Linked DNA regions of Homo sapiens: regions 1, 2 and 3 are each linked to region 4. Evidence: fine-mapped expression QTL. A gene starts in region 4. Each other region holds a variant in brackets. All regions are shown on one strand. Distances are from middle to middle. Region 1 overlaps UGGT2 (UDP-glucose glycoprotein glucosyltransferase 2). Region 2 overlaps UGGT2 (UDP-glucose glycoprotein glucosyltransferase 2). Region 3 overlaps UGGT2 (UDP-glucose glycoprotein glucosyltransferase 2). Region 4 holds the start of UGGT2 (UDP-glucose glycoprotein glucosyltransferase 2).

The links. PIP is the estimated chance that this variant, and not a neighbour inherited with it, causes the effect.
Region 1: its variant is fine-mapped to the expression of UGGT2 in whole blood (TOPMed, PIP above 0.99). The same link has a PIP of 0.9 or more in esophagus mucosa, ileum, pancreas, spleen, subcutaneous fat and sun-exposed skin.
Region 2: its variant is fine-mapped to the expression of UGGT2 in blood mononuclear cells (TOPMed, PIP 0.93). The same link has a PIP of 0.9 or more in tibial artery.
Region 3: its variant is fine-mapped to the expression of UGGT2 in lung (TOPMed, PIP 0.92).

Annotation. Positions count from the first base shown.
Region 1 is chr13:95,895,469-95,900,621 of GRCh38, reverse strand. The region is part of intron 22 of UGGT2 (UDP-glucose glycoprotein glucosyltransferase 2); the gene reads left to right. Among named protein-coding and RNA genes, the nearest start is that of UGGT2, 160 kb to the left of the region's middle. The variant T/C (reference allele first, on the strand shown) is at 2,122.
Region 2 is chr13:95,955,590-95,960,742 of GRCh38, reverse strand. All of the region lies in intron 12 of UGGT2 (UDP-glucose glycoprotein glucosyltransferase 2), which reads left to right. Among named protein-coding and RNA genes, the nearest start is that of UGGT2, 95 kb to the left of the region's middle. RefSeq lists enhancers at 649-1,148, 1,149-1,650. The variant G/A (reference allele first, on the strand shown) is at 2,186.
Region 3 is chr13:96,001,062-96,006,214 of GRCh38, reverse strand. All of the region lies in intron 5 of UGGT2 (UDP-glucose glycoprotein glucosyltransferase 2), which reads left to right. Among named protein-coding and RNA genes, the nearest start is that of UGGT2, 50 kb to the left of the region's middle. The variant A/G (reference allele first, on the strand shown) is at 3,201.
Region 4 is chr13:96,050,597-96,055,749 of GRCh38, reverse strand. UGGT2 (UDP-glucose glycoprotein glucosyltransferase 2) reads left to right here and starts at 2,349. Exons shown (of 39, transcript NM_020121.4): 1 at 2,349-2,595. The coding sequence starts at 2,438. RefSeq lists an enhancer at 2,088-2,587.

The sequences.
Region 1 (5,153 bases), 160 kb after region 4:
CTTTCCCCCATTTAATGAGAATGATGATGTGGGTAAGGAAGAATGTTCTTTATGTGTCTTGCTTTTATTTTGTTCTAATGTAAGTATTAGAAGGAACAACTTAATGCACATCTTCAAAACATTGTCATTAGAACCACTGTTGTAGTAGGTGTAGCAAGTAGGTTATGACATCTTTCTTCTTGTTCCTACAGTTGTGTATGTTAAATGGCATTAGATACTATTTTCAGTTTTGAAGTATCAAGTAGTATAAATTGCCATGTAGTATTTATTAATAAAATATTTACAAGGCTGTAGGAAGAAAATCTCTTACTCTCCAACCACCCTAATAAAACTTAATAGCTTATTGTTTTTCCTTTCAGCCCTTTTTTCTACCATACATAGATAGCCATTTTTGGTTTTTTAGAATACATCCTTATAATCCTACTATATATAATTTTACATCATGATTTTTCTGTTAATATAAATGTTTTTCTGATTGCAGTCTTTGTAGACACATACAAAATAAGTGGATGATATCTATATACTAATATTTTTAATATGATAGTCTTATTTCATACAAATTGTTTAAGTAAAAAACTGAATCTGGTGCTTAGGTTTATTAAGAAATCAACAAATGCAGTGTTTTTCACGTATCTGTGGCTTGAATTTTCAAATTATATATCCCTCAATCATCTTCAAAGTTCTAATGCACTCTTAATGTTTTGTTTTTCACTTACTTTTGAATTCTGTTCACCTGCATATTAGATTCAGGTTCATCTATGTACAGTGCTATTTTACACATGTCAAAAGCTGCCATTTATTGTAAAAAGTATTGGTGAATTTTGGTAGTGAGATATGTAGAGCTCTGTAAATGGCATTGCTTTTTCACTTTAAAAGTTACTTTGGGAGGAAATACAGCTTTTAAAAACAGTTCTAAAGCTTTTGGCTGTCTTTGACCATGTCAAGCATTTTAAGGGATAAAGAGGGAAACAATGGCACCTGTTTTATCTAGTGCCTTACCTTTTAGTTATATACTAGGGAAAAGCTATCCTATGTCTTGTCATTTTGATATAATTCATATAGTGTTATTGACATTAATGATAACAAATACTAGATACAGTTATGTTCAACTTATTTCTCATAAACATAAAACTATGTTTTGTCCTGACTTTCCTTAAAATTGATAAAAATATTAAGATATTAATCTTACACCTACTGTGAACCAAACATTCTTCTAGATTCTGAAGGCACAGCAGTAAACAACTACGTTTTCATGGGGCTAATATTTTGATGGATAGAGAGAGACAACAAACAGCACCCTTACTGATAAGGCATCTATCTTAAGTATGTTTATGCTGCTATAAAAATATGCCACAGACTGGCTAATTTATAAAGAACATAAATTTATTTCTTATACTTCTGGATGCTTGGAAATGTAAGGCTGACGTGCTGCCATGGATGTCTGGTGAGGGCTGCTCTCTGCTTCCAGGATGGCTCCTTGTTGCTCTGTTTTTACATGGTGGAAAGTAGAAGGGCAACAGAGTGCTCCCTTCAGTCTTGAACTCTTTTATTATAAGGATACAAATTCCATTCATGAGGGCAGAGCCCTCGTGGCTTAATCATCTCCCAAAGGCCACACCTCTCAGTGCTATCGCACTGGCCACTAAGTTTCAACACATGGGTTTTGAGGGACACGTTTTGTCTTAATCTGTTTTGTGCTGCTGTAACAAAATACCTGAGACTATATAATCTCAGAAATCTATTAAAGAACAGAAATTTATTCTCTCATACTTCTGGAGGCTGGGAAGTCCAAGATCAAGGCACTGGCATCTGATGGGAGCTTTCTTGCTGCATCCTCATACGGCAGAAGGCAGTGGGGCAAAAAGGGGATGAGTGCTATGTTCCTACATGGCAGGAGAGAGCAAACCCACTCCTGAAAGCCTTTTTATAGTGGCATTAGTCCATTTTGAGGCACAGCCCTCATGACCTAAACACCTCCCATTAGGCCCCAGCTCCCAACACTGTTGCATTGGGGATTCAGTTTTAACATAAATTTTGGAGAGGACAAAGACATTCAAACCATAGCACATTCATAGCAGTGTCATATGGGCAAAGAACCAAAGAAGGTGAAGGAGGAAGCCA[T/C]GTCAAATATCTGGAAGAGGATTGTTCTAGACAGAGTACAGTGAATGCAAAGGACGTGAGGTGAGTTCATGTCTGTGAATCCTGTGAATCATGTCTGCTATTCTAAGAATAGCAGGTAGGAAGAGAGCAGGCAGGAGAGAAGCCAGAGAAGTAGCTGGGGGCCAGATCATATTGGGTTTTATAGGAAGTTTAAGGACTCCCACTTTACTCTGAATGAGTTGGGAAGTGCATAGTTCTGGGCAGGAGATTGGCATCATCTAGCTTATGTTTTATTTGGATCACTAGAGGCTGTTACATTGGGAATATACAATAGGGGGTCAGGGAGCCAGTTGGGAGATAATGCAGTAGTCCAGATGAGAGATGATGGTGGCTTGGACCAGAATGGTTCTAGTGGTGGTAGTAAGAAGTGGATATGGGATGTATTTTATGTGAAGAATGGACAGGAATTGTCCAGGGACTTTGGTGTGAGATGTGAGAGAACTAAGTTACTGGCAGAGTGGAGTTACTGTGGATCAAGGTGAGGAAGGCTGCAGGATGAGTGAGGTTGTCAGGAGCAGTATAAGAAGAAGGAAAGAGAATTCAGTTTGGACCTCCAAAAAGACTTGTTAAGAAGGTGATTGAATATGAGTGTAGTACAGAGGAAGGATTGGGGCTGGAGATAGATATTAAGTCAAATTATGTTGATTTTTTCTGTTGACTAATGGAAAAATGTAATTTCAATTATCCTTTTATTTGTATAACTGTGGTTTTAATAGAAAAGTATATTGGAAAATAAGTCTGTGGTTTATGAGCGATAATGTAATACTTAGCTTATCACTCTGAAAGTAATGCTGTTAAGCATAATAATCACAGCAATGTGGCAGATGTTATAAAAATTTGGAATCAGATAGTTTAATGCTTGAAATAAGTATGATATTTTAGTATAAATCTTCATTCTGAGCCTGTTCAAATGTTTCCATTAGAATTGGAACATATGAAAAGTTAAAATTGTTTATAAATGATCAACAACTAGGGTACAATGATGATCACACAGTTTCTTAAAAACACTGAATAATTTAAAATTGACATATTTAATATTAATGCCACAAATAATGCCATTGTTATAATAATATTTATTTGTATTACACTACATATTCACAGTTTGCTGAAAGACATGGGGTAGCAGGGAGTAGGGAACAAAAGCAGGGTCTTTTTTTTGTTTTATAGTCAGATCTGGATTCAAATTCCAGTTGCACCATTAATTACATTACACTGTGAGACCTGATTTCTTCATTTGGACAATGAGAATGATAATAATCTGTCTTACAGGATTGTTGGGGTGATTAAATATGCTCCTATATTTAAAGCACATAGAAGGAACCCAAACACAGAGTAAATTTTCAGTAAATATTAACTGCTATTTTCTCTCAATATTTGAAGGGCATCATGAAAAATAATGGGCATTTGTAGACTTAATTTGTGTTACACTAGCTAAAAGTTAGCATAAAATCAAAACTAGTTGATCAAACTTCTGTGAGTAGAGAGACATTTTTAGCTCAGTATGTGGATGAAAATCTGACAGAGTTTTCTGCAATTTTCATGACCTGTCAAATGAAGTAATGCATTTCTGTTACAGCAATTATTCTATGTAACTGAAAAATCACATTTCTCAAATGTTATGAAGAAGATTTAAGCAACATAATTTTCAAGTTTATTGTTCTTTTACCCAACTTGGACATTATGTGATTTTATGCTATTTAAGTTACTTTATTCCACAAATTTTCAGCTTTAAATAGAACCAAGACACAGAAACATTAGGTTTCTCCTGTTTGATGCTGTGCTTAATGTAAGCAAAATACAGCCAGTTTTCTGGTAAATTTAATCAGTAAAGATAGCCAATGTAGTTAACCCCTTAAAACAATACTTTTAAGATTTTATTTCCTTATTCTAATGTTACTAACAAAACTGCCCCTGTCGCTAGAGGTAGTATAGATAAGATTCAACTGTTTTCCAAGACTGCTGATTCATTGTTCAGAAATGTAACATTGAATGTGCTTTCAAAGTTGCTTTAAAAATTATATCACGTCTTAAGACAATGAAATGTTTATATGAGTACTTTTAGTATTATAGTGCCCATTTTTGTGTTTTTAAGAGCCCGTGTTTTATATTTAAGGTGAAACATGATATTTATTTAGTTGAGATGCCAAAATCCCAGTTAGTCACCTTTGATATGAGAAAATGGGATAGAAAGATTCAAGAACTATGCTTCAGTAATTTTTAGAAAAGATGAACTGTAGGAGCAGGTGAAGGGGAAGTGAGAAAATCTGGCTACAGCCATTACATTCTGGTCTTTTTACCAAGAAAAAAATAATCTGGTTGACGTGTTTTCTGATTATCATTAAATATAATTGTTTTGTACATAGGATTATGTCAGTCTACAGTAGGGTTTTGTGTACGTGGTGTTAGAATGATTGTTATGTACTAATTTCCTCAGAAAGTGCTCATGGTAGTAGAGTCAGTAGTGGTTGTGATGGGAGAGCCATTCTGAGAAATTAGGTATGTGGCAATTTGGCAGCTTCTAACTTTGTAGTTACTGGTTTAAAGTTAATATAGGTGACCTTGCTAGGCTCCTAACCATTTATACAGTATCAGTTAAAAGAAGACTGGTTGGTATTATTATAGTAAGTATGTGATTTTTATGTGATTTTTCTCTTGGGTTTTGCTATTTTATGGCTTTCTTATAAAGTAATTCATGTCTATATAGTGTAGAGTACAATTTATAGATGAAGGTGAAAGAAAATTGAAATTAAAAGATTTTTAAAAATATAGACCATTGCTTTCAAAATTGAATTCAGATTGAAATGGTATTTGGAAGCATCATGATTTATGTTTCAAATCACGATTTATGATTTATGTTTCAAATCATGATTTATGATTTATGTTTCAAAGTAAAACTTTCTAATGGAAATAATTTGCTAATTTTTTATATTGTCACTTTGATTTTGGTGTTTATACAAATGTTATTTGTAATATCAAAGTGAGAAAGTATATCT
Region 2 (5,153 bases), 95 kb after region 4:
TAATTTGCCATGGGCAAAACCTTTTGGAATTGTATCTATTTGGGAATCTCTGTGCCTCCTGTATTTGGATATCTAAATCTCATTAGACTTGGGAAGTCTTTTTCTGTTATTTCATTAAATAGGTTTTCTAATACTTTTTTTTTAATCTTCTGGGACAGCAAAATTCAAATATTTGGTCACTTTATGGTGTCTCATATGTCACATAGGCTTTGCTTATTCTTTTTTGTATGTATTTTTATTTGACTGGGATATTTCAAAAGTCTTGTCTTAAAATTCTGAGATTCTTGATTCTACTTGATTTAGTCCACTGCTGAAGCTTTTCAATACATTTTACATGTCATTCAATGAATTTTCTATTTGGTTCTGGTAAATTTCTCACTTATTTCCTGAATTGTTTTTCTGATATTTTTGGATTGTTTTAAAGTATTCTCTTATAGCTCACTGAGCTTAATTTCAATATTTTGAATTGTTTTTCTGGGATTTCATAAATGTCTTTTAGATTGGGATCTGTTGCTGGAGAATTATTGTGTTCCTTTGGAGATTGCTTATGTTCCTGTGTCCTTACGTTGACATCTGTGCATCTGGTGTAACAGTTACTTATTCCATTTTTTAAAAATTTCCATTGTTAGGGGAAGACTTTTTCCTGACCATTTATGGTGTTAGTTGCATAGTACACTTTTTGGCATTGATTCTCAATGTGTGCAGTAGGGTAATCTCTGTATGATTTCTTCATCTGTAAACAGCATCAGTGGTGTCTCTGTTTGCTAGGTGGCTTGTAGCACAGTTGCTAGTGGAGGCTGTGATGAAGTTTTGCTGAAATGTGGGACACCAGTTGGGCCAGACTTAGGGCCCTATGGGTGGCGATGGTGGGTTGAGCCTTGGCCCCCAGGGTGGTGTACACTAGCACCAGTGTTAGCAGGTGCAGGGAGGTTGATTCTTGGGCCTCTAGATGACTTGCTTGGGTGCTGGGAATGACAGTGGTAGGTAGGTTCTTGAGCACCTGAGCAGTGGTTGTGGCACGGGCAATGGCAGTAAGTGGCGGGACAATTCTCTAGGACCTAAGGGTCCATGCCAGTGTTGGCAGTAGCTGTGATGGGCTGGGTCAGCCATTGCCCAGGCCCTGAGGTGATGGTAGTGGCAGGTTGGGTGGGCATGACACTGGGAGGTGTGCTCAGATGCCAATGGTAATGGATTGTGCTGGGTGATCCCCACGTCCCTGGACAGCATGCTTAGGTACTGGGGGTGATAGAACCAGGCAAGATGGTTCTTAGGCCCCATGTTGGTACATTCAGGCTCTGGCTATGGTTGGTGGGCAGCAGGGGAGCGGGATGATCCACCGGCCATAGGTGGATGCTCAGGTAGAGGCAGCAGCAGCAGCTGTGCTGCTGTTCTGCTACTGGAGAGGGTGAAGTCACTTTCAACAGGAGCAATTGGAGGCAGGTGGCTGGGGCATGCTTTGCTCATCCTATGTCCCCCCACCCCAAAACACACACACACAGTTTGCAGCAAATGGAATTTGTCCTCAGGTGCATGGAAATGTGTGATTGTCCCTCTGCTGGGGAGGCAGTGTGACTGCCAGTGGTTCTGCCTTGGCCCTAGCAGGGAATGTCAGTGGGACCCCAGAGATATGGAGATGCGGGGGCTGTTAGGCCCCAGGGCAGGACACAGTCTGTGGGAGCTGGGCTCTCAAAATGATGCCATACTGCAGTGGCTTAGGACTCAGGGGTTTGTGGGACTGGGCATGAGCTCCCTCTCTGGATCAGTGGCATTGTGCAATCTCCAGGTAGCTCCCTCTGTTAGTCTCAGAAGCCCATAAGGGTGAAGGGGCTTTTCCATGGTTAGGTTGGTAGGAGTCCGTAGTGGAAACGTGGACTGCTGAGGGTCTCTCACTTACACTTTCCTTGCATTAGGGAACCTCTCTAGGCTTCCAGCCAATCCCAGCCTAGCAGTCTGCCTTATTTCCCTCTCCTTTCTTGCTTTCGGGTACTCCTGTCACTTCTCTGGTGAATTCCAGTGTGCTCCCTTAGACGACCTATTCGAAGTGTGATTATCTGCTTACTATATTGGTTCCTTTCCATGGAAGAGGCAAGTAGCAGATACATCTATTCAGCCATCTTGAAGCCCCTTCTTAAAAAAAAAAAAAAAAAAGATCTTAAGGGGAAAAATCCTCTCTGAAATTTTTGCT[G/A]ATTGTTTTATATAAAAATGTAAGGGATTCTCTCTGAAGCATCTCAGTTATTATAGTTAGTTTTGCCTTACTTGAAAAACCTTCCTGCTCATAAACTACCTGCCTTTGGCCAGGCGTGGAGGCTTACGCCTGTAATCCTAGCACTTTGGGAGGCCTAGGCGGGTGGATCATGAGGTCGAGAGATGGAGACCATCCAGGCTAACACGGTGAAACCCCGTCTCTACTAAAAGTACAAAAAATTAGCCGGGCATGGTGGCGGGCGTCTGTAGTCCCAGCTACTCGGGAGGCTGAGGCAGGAGAATGGCATGAACCTAGGAGGCGGAGCTTGCAGTGAGCCAAGATCGTGCCACTGCATTCCAGCCTGGGCGACAGAGCAAGACTCTGTCTTAAAAAAAAAAAAAATTCTGCCTTCTCAGAGCCAAAGGACTATAGCAGCCCGAAAGAAACGCCATATTCCCTGAACATCAGAAACTTCAGATTCAGGATAAATAACAAATTACTAAGTAGTTATCATTTGTGTTTTCTAGAACACGAAGTGACTTGTTATATAGATGTTTGTTACTGTTTTCTACCACTCTTTAGACCGTATTCTTTCATTGGCTAGATTTTACTTTTACTTTGTCTTTAATCTCAATAGCAGATGTCTTTTCTAAAAATGTTATGTCAGAAAAAGGAATGACCTTGTAAGTAATCTTAATACTTGTATCTGATATTTAAGAATTTGTGCTTTTTAGCTTTTGTAGAAAAGAATGCTGAGAGAGAGTCACACAGAAAATTAGTGCAGTAATTGTCAAGGCTCTTCTAGACATAGTAAACAGACCTATAAAGAAACCTTCCTATTCTCTTTGTAAAATAATATCCTAGCTTGCTTCTAAGGTTGGCAGTGAAGGACAGTCACTCTGTGTGTGGAGGAGCAGTTGGACTTTTAAGCCCTTATGCTGCTCCCATTGTCCCCACACTCTGCAAAGCCCCATTTCCCTGAGTTGTCTCTCAGATTCTGGCAAGCTTTCAGATATCAGTCTCAGACGGTGTGCCTCCCTTCTCTGCCACCCTGCTGCTTTCAGCAGACTATCTCTTCATAAGCACTGATAAGACTGCTAATTTGTCAAGACTACCACAGGCCCCAAACCCCAGGAATTCCAGTCCATAAGGAGTATAGCTGGTTTTGGAACCCACCCTCCATAAAGGTTGTGTTCCCACGAGATTGTCACAAAGTAGTTTTTATTCAGGTTAGATATACATGGCATAAAATTTGCTCTTTTAACCATTCAGTGGCATTAAGTACATTCACAGTGTTGTACAACCATCACCACCATTTATTTTCAGAACTTTTTCATTATCCCGAACGAAGCTCTGTTCACATTAAACATTAAATCCCCATACCCTTCTTCCTGAAGACTCTGGTAAGCTCTATCTACTTTCTGTCTTTATTAATTTGCCTATTGATATTTCATATAAGTGGAATTATACAATATTCTTTTGTGTCTGGCTAATTTCACTTAGCATAATATTTTCAGGGTTCATCCATGTTGTAGCATGTATCAGAATTTTGTTCCTTTTTAAGACTGAATAATATTTCATTGAATGTATATACCACAGTTTGTTTATCCATTCATCTGTTGGACATTTACACTGCTGCTAACTTTTGGCTATTGTGAATAATGCTGTGCTATGAACTTTGATGTACAAGTACCTGTGTGAATCTCTGCTTTCAGTTCTTGTGGGTATATACCTAGAAGTAGAATTGCTGAATCATATGGTATTTCTGTGTCTAACTTTTTTGACAAACTGCCAAACTGTTTTTCACAGCTGTTACATCATTTGTCATTACCACTGTCAGTTCACAAGTGTTCCCATTTCTCCACATCCTCACCAATTCTTGTTATTTTCTGGTTTTGGCATGTTTTGCTTTGTGGCAATTGCCATCCTAATGAGTGTGAACTGGTATCTCATTGTGGTTCTCATTACATTTCCTTAATGACTAGTGATGTTGAGCATTGATTCATAATACCTGTTGGCCATTTGTATATCTTCTCTAGAGGAATATCTATTCAAGTCCTTTGCCCATTTTAAATTGGGTTCTTTGTTTTTTGTTGAGTTGTAGGAGTCCTTTATATATTCTGGATATTAATTCCTTATCAGATATATGATTTGCAAATATTTATTCCCATTCTGTAGGTTGCCTTTTGACTGTTAGTAGTGTCCTTTGATGTACAACAAAATTTTAATTTTTATGAATTCCACCTTTTTTTGGTTACCTTTGCTTGGCACCCTTGTCAGATATCAGTTGATCATAAATGCAGATTTATTTCTGGGCTGTCTAGTCTATTCCACTGATCTGTATGTCTGTCCTTATTCTAGTACCACATTGTTTTGATTACTGTAGCTTTATAGTCAGTTTTGAAATCAAGAGGTGTGAGTTCTCCAACTTTATACTTCTTTATCAAGATTGTTTTAGCTTGTCGTTAAATTTTATTTCCTGCTCTGCTTTGTGATTGCCTTTTACTAACAACAGTGGCTTAAATTTATTGAGCAGAGTGCCAGATACTATGTTCAGCATTTAAAATGAATTATCTCATTTTATTTGCACAGCGACCCTATTAGGTATTGATAGCATCCCCATTATACAGATGAAGAAACTGAGACACTAAAAGGTTATTTGAACTCATGCTTGTAACTGTGACATCATATTACTTAGTTACATTTACTGCATCTGTTTAAACATTTCCTAAAGTTCAAAAGAAATATCACTTTATAGACTTTATCTTAAAATGAAGAAGTATGCACAAAAAATGAACAATAATATGCAGCAGCCCTGTTTGAGCGCTTTGAAAACTGAAAACTTAGGGAGGCTTGACCCTCTAACCAAACCCTCTACTGCCCATGTGTACCTGGTTGAGGGAAAGAGTGTGGGGCTAAACTCTGAGCACATTTCTCCTGGCCGTGTCTTGTGTGTGCCCTTCCTGAT
Region 3 (5,153 bases), 50 kb after region 4:
ATGAATTTTCCTTTCTGATCACTCATATGTTCTACTTTTTTCATTAGAGCATTTAACATGTTAATCATTATTTTAAATTCCCTCCTGAAAGTTTCAACTTCTTTTTTACATCTGATTTTGAAATTGTTGATTGATTTGTCTCTTCAGACTTTTGTTCCATTGACTTCTTGGACATCTTGTGATTTTCGTTGTTATTAAAAGCTCAACATTTTGTGTAGGAGCCTTGACCCTGCCTTTAGTTTAGGCCATGCCTTTCATGTATGCAGGATTGAGGTGTTCTGGTCAGGAGTTGGGTTGGGTTTCACGTTTGTGTTCCACTTGGCTTTAGGTCTCCCCACTTAGATTTGGATCTTCCCTTTGTACAGCTCCCCAAAGACAATGTGTTTCTTATAGCTTTCCCACCTGTATTTCAGCGTTATCTTTACTCAACCCTTGTTAGATTGGCCTTGAGGTGAAGGTGAGGGGGCAGCTAAGGAAGGGGATATTCTCTGATGTTCCAATTAAGTTTCCTTTCTAGGCATACTGTAAATTTGGGCCTCAAGGTTTCTGATCCTCTCTCAGAATGTTGGGCCTGGCAGGTATTCCCGTCCTTCCTTCAGACTAAGACTTTCATCTGTTCCATTTCTCCCGTCTTCAGTGGGCTTCCACCAGTACACTATATAGCTACAATTTTGTTGCCCTTGCCTCTGAAGATTAAGGCTTTGGTTCTATAGGGGAGATAGGTCTGAAGTGGATTTCAGCAGTGATTTTTCTTTCCTCTCTACCTGTCACCATTAGAGTGGAAGCTTTCTCAGGACCTTCCCCAGTCTTCCCTGTGCAAGAGGGTTTCAGCCTTGCTATGTCTGGAGCTACCAGGGGCTTCACACTCTCACGTTAGCCCACATTTAGCCTTTAGCAAGCTTTATAGATTTCTAGCTAAATATCTTTACCAGCTTCACTAGCATTTGGTGGTATCTGTCCTGGGTATTCAAATGTTCACCTTCCCACAGGTGCCTTTTTCTTCTGTTATCATTCTCGTTCCTTCTGCTTTATTTTTTCTTCAGAAAATTTTCTAATACAAAAAGCCTAAAAATAATAAACTTTTTGTATATGCTACCCAGAATTGACAGCTAACATTTTATCTTTTCAAGTTTATTTTTTAATTGAAGTAATAAAACTTTAAAAATAAAGTTGAAGATTATTTTGTTTTCCATTATCAGTCTCATTCTCTACCCCAACACCAATTGGAGTGTTCTTTTAAATAATAAAGTGCTGTCACTCCTAGAGATCTTTCTTCGTTAGATCTGGCACATTGGTTGGGAATATATAGCATATGATTCTGAGGCCCTCTGATATCTGTCCACTGAAGAAAGAGAAAGATGAGACATTCTAGTTCTGAGAGAGGAGGTCATAACTAGGTGGCTGTTTAATAAGGATACAATGCTTATAAAATTATTTTTCCTTGTTTTGAAACATACAATAAATTATTTTTTTGGTTTTATTACATTTTTTTCTGTTCTTTTTTTCATTTATTATTATTATACTTTGGGGGGAGGGGGGAGGGATAGCATTGGGAGATATACCTAATGCTAGATGACGAGTTAGTGGGTGCAGCGCACCAGCATGGCACATGTATACACTAACCTGCACATATGTAACTAACCTGCACATTGTGCACATGTACCCTAAAACAATAAATTATTAACCATAGTCACTCGATTGTGCTGCTGAACACTAGATGTTATTCTTCCTAACTGTATTTTTATACCCATTAACCATCCCCTCTTAATCCCCACATCCCCACTAGTTTTTCCATCTTCTGGTAACTACCATCATTCTAGTCTCTGTCTCCCTGACTTCAAAAATTGGAATGTTCCTAACACAAAGAAATAATAAAATGTTTGAGGTGATAGATATCCCAAATACCCTGATTTGATCATTACATTTTGTATGTTTGTATCAAATTATAACATATACCCCATAAATATGTGCAACTTTTCTGTATCCATAATAATTAAAAATAAAAAATTTTAAAAACAAATATGTTTTTTTTTTTTTTCCTAGAGTTGCTTAGATACCATAGCTTTGCTGCTTACCTGGGGATAGCTTTGCTGCTTACATGGGGAATCCAAAATTTAAGTTTCTTAGTGCTGATTGAAGCTATCTTATAACTTCTGAAAGCAGTAATATATGATTGTAGAGGATGAAAATCTCTTAAGTTACTACTATTTATGAGGAAACTAGGTATTCTTTGAATTAGAAATTTGTTAGAGGAATCTGTCATCTCTTCCTTCTTTCTTTCCTCCATGCACATTTATTAGATGCTGTGTCTGTGTCTGAATTGCTTTGTAACAAATCTTCTCAAAATTTAGTGGCTTAAGGAAATATTGACTTACTGTTTCTCTTTATTCTGTGGGTTGACAGTCGGGGCACTTTTTCTGCTGGTATTGTTCATGCAGTGAGGGTCATTCAGTACTAGATTAGAGCTTGGGGATTCAAATTATTCTGACAGACCTGTGTGGCAGTTCAGGCTGATAGCTGGAGTTTCTTGTCTTTTTCTACATGGCCTTTCATCTTCCAAGAGTTAGACTATGATTCTTCACATCATGATGGCTTAGGGTCCCAAAAAGAAAAGAGTAGAACTTGCAATACCTCTTAAGCCCTATGCCCAAGAACTCATACAGTGATACTTCTGCCACCTTGTGTTAGTCAAAGCAAGTCACAAGGCCAGCCAGATTCAAAAGAATGGAAAAATAGACTCAATTTCCTGGTGAGAAGTAGCAAGGTCACATTGCAAAGGAGTCTGGACATGGGAAGGAGTTACTCATTTGTGGCCTTTATAATAATCTTCCACAAATGCCTGTAATTTGGGCACTGTGCTTAGTACTGGTGATAGAAGATAAGTAGCTTATTTCAGTATCTTAATTTTGTTTTATATATTTGATAATTTTATGATGCAGGTTCACTGTGCACTGGTATCAATCCCAGGGGAGGACTGTAAACACCTTGCCAATACTGTGTACCAGTATCAATCCACTGGCATGAGTCTGGTGAGACAGAACACACAATAAGTTTAGGGAAGCAACTTTATTACTCACAGACAGGCAGCAAGGGACAATAGACACCTAAGGATTCATGGCAAGCTCATCCCCCAAAGCTTAGGATAGCTGTCCAGGATGGATGGAGTCTCACGTGCACGTCATTCATGTTGCACCGCAGCT[A/G]AGGAACTCTGAAAGCCTGCTCTGCCCTGGGTTTTATACCTAGGAGCAACTTGATGAGCTGTGCTAAAGCATTGCAAGACATCCTGTTCTAGGAGCTATGGGAACAGAGCTTGGCTTTACTGGCAATTCCTTCATATTTCTTGCATTTCCAGCACATCATTCTACAGTTATTCTGAGATTTACAAGTGAGAAAGCGAGGAAGAGCTGGGTTGCCAAGATCTTTTGGGGACTTGCCCTACAATAACATCATATAAAATGTGTTTTTTCCCTCAGTGTTCTTCACATTCTCAATTTTAATTGTTCATTGTATAATTTTGAGTTAGTTATTGCTATTTAGTAAAAGTGGAAAATCTTAAATATTCTTGAGTGTGTTGGCATATAGATATTTGCATAATCTACATAAAGATTATCTGTAAAGTGAGATGTAAAGAGAAAGTGTGGGTGTGTGTACAGTTTGTAAATGATTACATATTTAAGTCATTAATTTCATAAATATTTGGATGCCTCTGTGCCAGGCATTGGTTCATGTAGCAGTGAATAAGAGAGAAACATTCCTTATTCTCAGAGAACTTCAATTTTAGTGGCAAGAGATGTAAAACAGATTTATGTTAGATGGTGATGAAAGTGTTTTCAGAAAAGATAAATATAAAAGAAGAGGACAGAGAGTCATGGGTCTAGAGTGTGCACTCAAAACATTTTATATTGTCTAATCATCTTATGCCAAGAATTCTCAATTTTTCCCAACTGAGTTTGCTAGAAGGATGGATACATTACCATCAATAACAGTAGCACCTTAAGACTATGATTCTCTGTCAGATAAGGCAGAGCTGAGAGGCAAATGAGAATAGGAACGGGAGTGGGAGATACAAGTACAGTTTACCCTTAAGCATGTGTGAGTTAGAGATACTGACCCCTCATGTTGTTAAAAAATATATGTATAACTTTGGACTCCACTAAAACTTAAGTAGTAATAACCTACTGTTGACTGGATGCCTTACTGATAACAGAAACAGTCAATTAACACATATTTTTCATGTCACATGTATTATTCTGTAATTCTTACAGTAGAGTAAGCTAGATAAGTAATGTTATTAAGAAAGTCATAAGGAAGAGAAAATATATTTTTCATTAAATAGAAGTGGATCATCATAAAGGTTTTTATCCTCATAGTCATGTTGAGTAGGCTGAGGAGGAAATGGAAGAGGAGAGGCTGGACTTGCTGTTTCAGGTGGCAAGGTGGGAGAAAATCTATAAGTAACTGTCTATAAAAGTAGATATCTATAAAATATCTGTTTCTTGTAAAAATTTATAAGAAAATCTGTAAGTAAACCTGTGCAATGAACCTTGTTGTTGTTAATTGTCTGTGTTTGTCTTTTTTAAATGTTCTCCCAAGTGGTTCTAACATGCCCCTGGGGAGCTATGCCCATCTGTTGTGAGAATCTGTCTCAAGTTATTATTTAGAGTTTCATGCGCGTCCGTGTGAAGAGACCACCAAACAGGCTTTGTGTGAGCAACAAGGCTGTTTATTTCACCTGGGTGCAGGCGGGCTGAGTCCGAAAAGAGAGTCAGCGAAGGGAGATGGGGTGGGGCCGTTTTATAAGATTTGGGCAGGTAAAGGAAAATTACAGTCAAAGGGGGTTTGTTCTCTGGAGGGCAGGAGTGGGGGTCGCAAGGTACTCAGTGGGGGAGCTTTTTGAGCCAGGATGAGCCAGGAAAAGGACTTTCACAAGGTAATGTCATCATTTAAGGCAAGGACCGGCCATTTTCACTTCTTTTGTGGTGGAATGTCATCAGTTAAGGTGGGGCAGGGCATTTTCACTTCTTTTGTGATTCTTCAGTTACTTCAGGCCATCTGGGCATATACGTGCAAGTCACAGGGGATGCGATGGCTTGGCTTGGGTTTGGGCTCAGAGGCCTGACATAGAGAATGTGACCATTAAGTGTGCTTCTGTG
Region 4 (5,153 bases):
TAGGAGAACACCATGTAAGATAAAATGTATAACAAATATATTCATAGATGGCCTAGATTAGATTAATTTTATTCTCTTTAAAAGAGAAATGAGCATTCTCACTATTCTGAACTCACATATAGTGAAATTTTTACTAATATACATTTTATTAGTGTCCTTTAATAGTCTATTTAATGTGCCTTTTATATGGCCAATTATTTCTTAAAGATTTGCAGTCCATTGGATATGCTGACATGTAAGACATTCACTGTCAATATTTTATTTCCTTAATCCCACAATCTCAATAAAAATTTCGGTCTAAATATGAGTGGAAATGGGGAGTTAATTAAAGCAAATAATTGTGAAAGATTCGTAATGTATTTTTCTCGTATACACTATGGATAGAAATGAAGTGCATTTGCCTTAGCTTTCTACATTCTTTCCATAAAGCAAGGGTTCTTCAATCTTCATGGAGTCCCCAAATAACATGTGAATGTGAAGTATTGTGCTAGGTACTGCACGGGATGCCAAAGATGAACAAGGCATGAGTTCTGGGGGAATATACTATCTCTCACAGGAGAAATAAGTAAGTAGCGTACTCAAGTATTAAAGTGAGAACTTAAGTGCTATATGGCAGTTACAATAAAGAGGAAATTTAAAGTAAGGATAGATCATACCAAGTAGGATAAATCAGGAAATGAAGGCTAAACTTTGGAAGTGAGAAATTATTCTGGAAATTCGTGGAACTGCTTAGCGGAATAGGGTTTTCTAAGGAAGGGTACTGACTAAGCAAATGAAACGAAAAAAGGGAATGACTATGTTTCCGCAACTTCAAGAGATCCAGCTTCCCTGCAGGGCAAAGGAGTAACAGGAGAGAAAAAAAGCAATGAATCCGTGCATCCGCTAAACTCTTTTACCATATATTTTACTCTGACAAAACAACTATCACGTATTGGCCTTTTGTTTGTTTGTTTTTTTGAGACACGGTCTCCCTCTTTCGCCCAGGTTGGAGGGCAGTGGCGCAATCACCGTTTTCTGCAGCCTCTACCTCCTCGGCTTAAGCTACCTTCCCGCCTCGACCTTCCAAAGTGCTGGGACTACAGGCGTGAGCCACCATGCTCAGGCTTATTGGCACTTTTCTGTGCACTTTTAAATGTAATCCTCTAAATCACTCTTCTCCACCTTTCCTGTGCATAGGAATCACCTGTGGTTCCCGTTAAATTGGAGATCTTGATTCATTAGGTCTGGGGCGGGGCCTGAGCTTCTGCATTTCCATTGAGCTCACAGCTGAAGCCTACCCTGGACCACACCTTCCAATGGAAAAGGCTCCAGTGTGATTTCTAGCCACTAGTATTATCTGCGAACTTGGGAGAAATAAAATGCAAGTTCTCGGCCCCCGCAAGGGCTCTACTGAATCCGAAACACTGTGGGGAGGCCCACCACTCTGCAGTGTTTTAACAAGCAAGTGGTTAAAGTTTGAGAGCCACCCGTAAGTCACGGGTTTCCTAACATGATTGGACACTGGAATCACCTGCGGATTTTTTTTTTTTTTTTTTTTTTGAGACGGAGTCTCGCTCTGTTGCCCAGGCTGGAGTGCAGTGGCGGGATCTCGGCTCACTGCAAGCTCCGCCTCCTGGGTTCACGCCATTCTCCTGCCTCAGCCTCCCAAGTAGCTGGGACTACAGGCGCCCGCCACTACGCCCGGCTAATTTTTTGTATTTTTAGTAGAGACGGGGTTTCACCGTTTTAGCCAGGATGGTCTCGATCTCCTGACCTCGTGATCCGCCCGCCTCGGCCTCCCAAAGTGCTGGGATTACAGGCGTGAGCCACCGCGCCCGGCCTGCGGATTTTAACTAATACTACTGATGCCGCATCTCACCCCCCCTCCCGAGATTCTCAGGTACGGGGCGTGGCCTTGGCGGCGGCCTTATAAAAGCTCTCCCAGGTGATTCCAACCTGTAGTAACACTTGAGAACTGCGTGAGGTGGGGACTTCAACTTTAACTGGACTTATTTTCCTCCTATGTAAAAGGTGGACAATATGCAAGTGGTCCTGACTTTGCTTCCAGATTTTGGCAACTCCAGAGCCCTAGTTCGGTCTGGAGAGCCAGCTTCCCGCCCCGTGTCCTAAGGCCTCTGTCCGAGAACCCAAAGTCCTGGGAATGGACCCGCGGGAGCGGACCCGCGGGAGCATCTGTGACGCCGCTCAGCAACCCGGCGCCGCCCCGGCGGCTCCGACGTGGCCCAGTGTCCGGCTGGCGTGGGCTCTCCAGGCCGCACCCACTAAACCGCGCCGGAGCGGGACACGCATGCGCCGGTCTGGACCCGGCACCCAGTAACGGACTCGAGCTCCTCCCACCGGAAGTGGGCAGCCGCGCAGCGGGAAGAGCCGGCCGAAGCGTGGCGGCCACAGACTGTGGGTACCGGGTCCGAGGGACTCGCGCTTTTCTCTCCGTGCCATGGCGCCAGCGAAAGCCACGAACGTGGTGCGGCTGCTACTAGGCTCCACAGCGCTGTGGCTTTCGCAGCTCGGCTCCGGGACGGTCGCCGCGTCCAAGTCGGTGACTGCCCACTTGGCCGCGAAGTGGCCCGAGACCCCGCTGCTGCTGGAGGCAAGGTGGGTGCGGGCCGGGCCCTCGTCCGGGCGGGTGTGGGCGCGCTGCCACCCTCAGCCGCGCTTTCTTCGTGCTCGCAGCGGGTGTCTGGCTCCCACCCGGGTTCTCCAGACGCCCCCGCTCTGGCCCTGAGCATCACCACCTCCTTCCTTCCCGACCCGGGGCGGCTTCTCGGTTCCCGTGCAGCACTCACTTGCAGTTCCTTTCCCCCTCAGTCTTACTTTACCTACGATTTTTAAAGCTTCCCTGCCCTGCTTTAATACGTTGGGATGTATTAGCATTTACGCGTGGCACTTAACGCAAGAGCTTCTACTGGGGTAGGCAGTTCTGTTCAGACAGTGCTTAAAGTACCTAGTTTCGTAATGATGACATCATACCATCAGCTCCTAGGCTTACTATGGGGAGGGCAGCTTCCTGCAAGGTAATATTTTTCCTGTATCTCTTCCAACGGAATTAGTTCATGACCTGTCATTTACTCTGCAGAACAAAACTTGTAGCTATTGCATTTTGCCCTTTAGTATTCTAGTTGAGTAAAATTAGAAAGTTCTTTCTCTTAGCAAAAATGAAGTTTTACACCAATGACTTAATGGCTGTTCACCACAGCAACAGTGTGTGTCCCTAAAAAGAGACTCCATGACTCCACATAAGTTCATGTATTTGATGCTAAAAGTTCTTTTTTTTTTTCATTTCTATAGTTTATTGGGGAACAGGTGGTGTTTGGTTACATGAGTAAGTTCTTTAGTGGTGATTTCTGAGATTTTGGTACACCCATCACCCCATCAGTATATACACTGCACCCAATTTGTAGTCTTTTATCCCTCACTCCCTTCTCAACCTTTCCCCCGAGTCCCCGAAGTCCATTGTGTCAATCTTATGCCTTTGCATCCTCATAGCTTAGTTCCCACATATCAGTGAGAACATACTATATTTGGTTTTCCATTTCTGACTTACTTCACTTAGAATAATAGTCTCTAATCTCATCCAGGTTGCTGTGAATGCCATTAATTGATTCCTTTTTATGGCTGAGTAGTGTTCCATCATATATATGCCACAGTTTATCCACTCGTTGATTGATGGGTATTTGGATTGGTTCCACATTTTTGCACTTGTGAATTGTGCTGCTATAAACATACTTGTGCAACTATCTTTTTCATGACTTCTTTTCCTCTGGGTAGATACCTAGTAGTGGGATTGCTGGATCAAATGGTAGATCTACTCTTAGTACTTTGAGGACTCCCCACACTGTTTTCCATAGTGGTTATACTAGTTTACATTCCCACCAGCAGTGTAGAAGTGTTCCCTGTTCGCTGCATCCACGCCAACATCTATTATTTATTTTTATTTTTTTATTATGGCCATTCTTGCAGGAGTAAGGTGGTATCGCATTGTGGTTTTGATTTGTGTTTCCCTGATCATTAGTATGTTGAGCATTTTTTCATGTTAGCCATTTATATATCTTTTGAGAATTGTCTATTCATGTCCTTAGCCCACTTTTTGATGGGACTGTTTTTTTTTTCCTGCTGATTTGAGTTCCTTGTAGATTCTGGATATTAATCCTTTTTCAGATGTATAGATTGTGAAGATTTTCTCCCGTTTTGTGGGTTGTCTGTTTACTCTGCTGACTATTCCTTTTGCCGTGCAAAAGCTGTTTAGTTTAATTAAGTCCCAGCTATTTTTTTTATTATTATACTTTAAGTTCTAGGGTACATGTGCACAACGTGCAGGTACATAGATATACATGTGCCATGTTGGTGTGCTGCACCCATTAACTCATCATTTACATTAGGTGTATCTCCTAATGCTATCCCCCGCTCCCCCAACCCCACAACAGGCCCTGGTGTGTGATGTTCCCCATTGTGTGTCCAAGTATTCTCATTGTTCAGTTCCCACCTATGAGTGAGAACATGAGGTGTTTGGTTTTCTATCCTTGTGATAGTTTGCTGAGAATGATGGTTTCCAGCTGCATGCATGTCCCTACAAAGGACATGAACTCATCCTTTTTTATGGCTGCATAGTATTCCGTGGTGTATATGTGCCACATTTTCTTAATCCAGTCTATCATTGACGGACATTTGGGTTGGTTCCAAGTCTTTGCTATTGTGAATAGTGCCGCAATAAACATGTGTGTGCATGTGTCTTTATAGCAGCATGATTTATAATCCTTTGGGTATATACCCAGTAATGGGATGGCTGGGTCAAATGGTATTTCTAGTCCTACATCCTTGAGGAATCGCCACAATGTCTTCCACAATGGTTGAACTAGTTTACAGTCCCACCAACAGTGTAAAAGTGTCCCTATTTCTCCACATCCTCTCCAGCACCTGTTGTTTCCTGACTTTTTAATGATCGCCCTTCTAACTGGTGTGAGATGGTATCTCATTGTGGTTTTGATTTGCATTTCTCTGATGGCCAGTGATGATGAGAATTTTTTCATGTGTCTGTTGGTTGCATAAATGTCTTCTTTTGAGAAGTGTCTGTTCATATCCTTCACCCACTTTTTGATGGGGTCGTTTAATTTTTTTCTTGTAAATTTGTTTAAGTTCTTTGTAGATTCTGGATA